Regions from separate parts of the Homo sapiens genome. Here region 2 is linked to region 1. A link means that fine-mapping ties the variant in region 1 to the expression of a gene that starts in the linked region. Tissue or cell type: whole blood. Region 1 holds a variant in brackets; the other region holds the start of a gene. All regions are shown on one strand. Distances are between the middles of the regions.

The links. PIP is the estimated chance that this variant, and not a neighbour inherited with it, causes the effect.
Region 2: it holds the start of OXSR1, and the variant in region 1 is fine-mapped to the expression of OXSR1 in whole blood (TOPMed, PIP above 0.99).

What each region holds. Positions count from the first base shown.
Region 1 is chr3:38,215,258-38,217,941 of GRCh38, forward strand. It overlaps OXSR1 (oxidative stress responsive kinase 1), which reads left to right. Exons shown (of 18, transcript NM_005109.3): 5 at 839-894. Among named protein-coding and RNA genes, the nearest start is that of SLC22A13, 49 kb to the right of the region's middle. The variant T/C (reference allele first, on the strand shown) is at 1,431.
Region 2 is chr3:38,164,161-38,166,844 of GRCh38, forward strand. It overlaps OXSR1 (oxidative stress responsive kinase 1), which reads left to right and starts at 1,377. Exons shown (of 18, transcript NM_005109.3): 1 at 1,377-1,786. The coding sequence starts at 1,717. LOC101928234 (a long non-coding RNA gene) reads right to left here and starts at 1,316. Exons shown (of 5, transcript XR_940733.2): 1 at 1,237-1,316. RefSeq lists enhancers at 52-1,251, 412-491, 642-771, 1,042-1,141, 1,535-2,150 and silencers at 1,382-1,771, 1,822-1,871.

The sequences.
Region 1 (2,684 bases):
AATTTAACCTTTCTACTGTTGCTGGCTGTTACTAGTTTTTGTTTTTTATTACAAACAATGCTGCAGTAGAACCCCCTTGTACTTTCCCTGTAAATTGTGAGAGTTCCTCTAGGTTATCAAGAAATGGTTTTGCTACTCTTAGGATTTGGGGATTTTAAATTTTGCCAAAAACTTGTTTTTGCTAAAAAAAAACTAAGTTGTAGATTTGAATGGATAGTATAATATTGTTTACATTGGGAGAAAAGCCCAGATATGTCATCGGTATATAGTCTGTTAACCAGACTGATAATAGTTGAAAACTTTGGAGAGAGTACTTAGACTTGAGAATGATGGTCAAAGGGATTTTGGCTTTTTTAGTTGTGTTTAGGTTTTTAAAACAAGAATATTTTTCTATATTACGTGTTATAAATAGTTAAAACTATAGAGATGCCTGAGTAATTTCCATCTTTTTGTTACAGGCAAAGAATGTTCCCTGTTTTCAGTTGCATACTGATGATTTTAAAAATTTGATAATTCATTGGGGTATAGAAAAAAATATATTTCAAAATGTAGAATTAGGTGAGGGTCACATTCTTTGGCCACTTTTATCCCGATCAAGAATATTTGATCACTTGTGTTTTCTAGATATTATAGTAAGAACCTTTCTAGCTTTCTTTTTAATGTGTGGGTTTCTAGTACCAGTGACAACAATTTTACTATTAGTCTTAATATCCTTTAATATAAAATAGGACATTTAAATATTGCTAGTATTACATGAATATAGTAAACAATTGCTTAAATTATGTTACTCCAAAGAATAGATGTTTTTTGATACATAACTTTTTTTTTTTTTTTAAAGAGATGTGAAAGCTGGAAACATTCTTCTTGGAGAAGATGGCTCAGTACAGATTGCAGGTAATGATTAGTATTTCTTTTTATTTGATTTAATGGTCAGTAGAACCACATTACTTATCTTTTATGTTTCCTTAATCAGCATTCTCTCCTGTTCCCTGGACCATCTCTATTCAAGCATCCTCTGTTGGCATGTCATAGGATGCCACCGACTCTCAAGATATCTTCTCATACTCATCCTTCATTTCTGCTCTTAGACATTTTTTTCTGACCATTACTTGTTTCCTTCCAGCTATCCACTCCTTACTTCCATTAGGGTCTTCTGCTATGGGTTCTCATAGCATTCTGTACTTTCCTTTAAAGGAAAAGTAGTTGAGGATCTTCATTGTGTTTAAGAATAAGTACGTTATATAGAGGCTATACAGAGCTTCTTCTGTCCTGGGGGAAATGGAGTATTTGTCAATTAGGAAAAAGTGCCTGAGAAGTAGAAGTGCACTTTTGGCAGTTTCAGAGCTGAAGGGATAAGAGTTGCAGTCCAGGGCCTACCAAAAGTGGCTATCCTGATGAAACACCCCCTCCTCCAGGCTGAGACTCCAGAA[T/C]GACTGTACCCAGGGATTGTCTAGCAAGCAGATCATCTGAGAAAACCTCAGCTTGGTCCCAGACTGCTAGAACAGTCAGGTGTTTGGCAGGAGGAAGATAATCACCCAAATCTTAAATTATTTCTTCATCTTTAAGAAGATAATTTAGGCGAACATCTTCATGTCCGTGAGGTAAGGAAATATTTTAACCAAGTCACATAAAGCTCTAATATAAAGGGAAAGATTGATAAATTTGACTCCTTTAAAATGAGCAACTTCTACTCATCAAAAGAGGAACAAATGGTTTATTACTATTAACAGAGTAAAAGGGTAAACCACAGAGTAGAGAAGATATTTGCAGCATGAATAATTGTTAAAGGGCTCAAGTGTAAAGCGTATAAAAAACTCACTGAGAGAAAAAAAAACTCTAAAAAAGTGGGCAGAAAACTGGCATAGGCACTTCCCAAATGAAGACATCCAAATATAAATGTAGTAAAAGATGTTCAAGCTTACACTAGTAATTTGTTAAATGCAAAGTAAAATCACATTGTGATAACACGTTAAATTGATTGGCCTGGCAAAAACATCTTGACAGTACTAATTGTTGGTGTGGGTATAAAGCAAGGAAAAAAATCTCATTTCTGATGATGGGAATATAAATTGGTACAACCATTTCATTACAGTTGAAGATATGCATACTGTTAGACTTTTGCTCCTAGGTGTATAGCCCAGAGAAACTCGTCCGTATCTGTGCCACAGTGTTCATAGTCATTACAAGTTTGAAATAATCCCAATGCCAGTAGAATGGATAAATAAATTGTGGTTAATTATATACTGGAATACCGGGTTTTTGTTTGTTTGTTTGTTTGTTTGTTTTTTTTGAGACAGTCTCGCTCTGTTGCCCAGGCTGGAGTGCAGTGGTGCACTCTTGGCTCACTGCAACCTGTGCCTTCCAGGTTCAAAAGATTCTTGTGCCTCAGCCTCCCAAGTAGTTGGGATTACAGGCGTGCACCCCTCCACCGACTAATTTTTGTATTTGTAGTAGAGACAGTGTTTCTCCATGTTGGCCAGGCTGGTCCTGAACTGTACCCACTAAAAAATAATTCCTCATTCCACCTCTCACCCCAGCCATGGGTGACCACCATTCTCCTTTCTGTCTCCATGAATTTGACTACTTTAAGTACCTAAGTGAACTCATACAATATTTGTCCTTTTGTGATTGACTTTATTTCATTTTGTATAATGTCTTTAAGGTTCATGTTGTAGTGTCAGAAT
Region 2 (2,684 bases), 51 kb before region 1:
GTGAAGGTCTCTTCCTTTTTCTGAGACGGTGTCTCCGTCTGTTGCCCAGACTGGAGTGCAGTGGCATGCTCTCGGGTCACTGCAACCTTCGCCTCCTGCTTCAGCCTCCCTAGTAGCTGGGATTACAGGCGCCAGCCACCACGCCCAGCGATTTTTCTGTATTTTAGTAGAGAGGGAGTTTCACCATGTTGGTCAGGATGGTCTCGAACTCCTGACCTCAGGTGGTCCGCCCGCCTCCGCCTCCCAAAGTGTTGGGATTACAGGCGTGAGCCACCGCACCCGGCCTAAGGTCTCTTCCTTAAAGACTGCCGTTGGACTGAAAGGTGTCCAACCTAGAACAGTTTCGCACCTAGCCCTATCCCTGTTGGATGCTCATTATTTTTTAAAATCCAATTTACCAAGCGTGTTCAGTCTTCAGCTCGCTAATTTCTCTAACGGCCGTACGTAGTCAAACTGAGAAAACTGTTCAGTGGGGGCGACAAAAGCCAACGCCCGTGAGACAACCCCCAAATCCGTGGGTCGATCTCACTTGTTTAATACCCCAAGCCCTGTCCGGGGGGAAGAAAGACAACCTCCCGAGTCCCTCAAGGCAGGTGCTTATTTGAGCTTCAGATCTAAAGCTGCGAATGGACAGAACCCGCCCAGTGCAGGGTGGACCCGCGAGAGACAGCGCCGCGACAAGCGTTAGAGAGAACGTCCGCCTTGAAAAAAATGTCACCAGGCAAACTTCCAGTTTCACTCCGACCAGTGGCCCAAGGCCTTTTATCCTAGTTGGCAGTGGTCCACACCCAAAGGCTACCCCACCCAGCCGCTCCCTCAGGGTTTCTCCACACCCTGTAGAGCCTTTCGCACGTCTCGAGGGTGTGACGGTTACGCCGTGACGTCACTCCAGAGGAAGTGGTAAGACGAGCGCGGTAACGGAGCTCTTGAAGGGCTGCAGCCCTAACACGGAGAAGCGCGCTAAGAGCCTGGAGGCGGGACCAATTTATGACTGACGTCTACCCACACCCATTGCTTTTCTGATTCCTTCTCAAACAAACCAATGAATGCGACGACGGAGACAGCAGCGTGCCCCAGGCGCTAGAAGTGGCTCTGCCCCTTCTACTTTGCTGCCCTTTGGTCGCCATGCTTAGTGTGGCTACTGCCTCTGTGCTACTTGAGGCTCTCCTACGGCTTTTCGATGCCTTCGATGAACCTCTACCTAAGCACTTCTTCCCTTTCACCGCGAACTCCTACCTTCTCGGGTTTCTAGCTTGCTCACTTTACATCCAGCCACACTGGAGATGGCGGCCGGAGGCGGGCCCGAGGTGGGGCGTGACCAGCGCAGTGACGTCAGCGCGCTGCGTGTCGGCAGGTGGAGGAAGAGGGGAAAGTTTGGCCCGTGCGTGGGGCTGGGGTGGAGGGCGGGACAGAGGGGCTGGGCCCAGGCAAAGCTTCTGTCGCTGCTGCTGCGGAGGCCGAGGACAGGACGTGGGCTGGGCCGGGCAGTGCCGGACTCGGAGGAGCAGGAGGCGAGGTCCGCCGGAGCTCTGAGCCCCCGCTGCTCTGCCGCGCGGTGACCCCGCGCCCCGGCGCCGTCCGACCCGTGGCTGTTCCGAGACGATTGGTGGGGGCGCGGCGGCGGCGGCGGCGGCTGTTGGGGGTGGGGAGACGCGCGGCGAGGAGACGAGCGAGGTCAGCGAGTTTGAGGGAGGACCGCGAGCCGCTGCCGCCGTCATGTCCGAGGACTCGAGCGCCCTGCCCTGGTCCATCAACAGGGACGATTACGAGCTGCAGGAGGTGATCGGTGAGAGCAGGCGCTGCGGAGGGGGGAGGCGCGGCGCTGGGAGGCGGGGGACACGGGAACGTGGGGAGCCGCGGGAGCTCGGGGAGCGCAGCCCTCATAGGAATTCGTGGGGCGCTTGTGGGGCTGGGGGCTTGTAGGACGCTTGTGTCGAGGAGCGCGTGTGAGACGGGAAGGGGGTTTTGAGGCGCGCGCCTGTGAGGTGGCGTGGGGTGGGGTGAGGCTTGAGGGGGCTCAGGAGAGATTTGTGTACAGGATTCTCAAATGTGTGGACAGGAGCGGCCCATGTGTCTTGTAGAGAAAGAAAGTGCAGGTGTGGGACAGGCCTTTCCGAGGCTGTGTGAGAAATGGGATCTTGAAGTGGGCACAGCCATCGATTTCTGGGATTGTGGGATAGATAGGGAGCTTTAAGTTTTTCCTCCATCCGTGCTGGGGCGAACTGGGGATCCTCCAGGTGAAGCTGCAGGAACCGCGCTGAGCAACCGAGACCCAACTTACGACTCCTTCCAACTGACTTTCCAGTCGGGGAGGTAGACATTAAATAAGAAGACAAAAAGAAGTAAGAAGGGCTGGGCGTGGTGGCTCACGCCTGTAATCCCACCACTTTGGGAGGCCGAGGCGGGCGGATCACGAGGTCGGGGGTTCGAGACCAGCCTGGCCAATATGGTGAAACCCCGTCTCTACTAAAAATACAAAAATTAGTTGGGTGTGGTGGTGCGCGCCTGTAATCCCAGCTACTCGGGAGGCTGAGGCAGAAGAATCCTTGAACCCGGGAGGCGGAGCTTGCAGTGAGCTGAGATCGCGCCACTGCACTCCAGCCTGGGCGACAAACCCTGACTCTGACTCAAAAAAAAAAAAAAAAAAAAAAAAATTTGAAGAGGCTTTGGCAAGTGCCATGAAG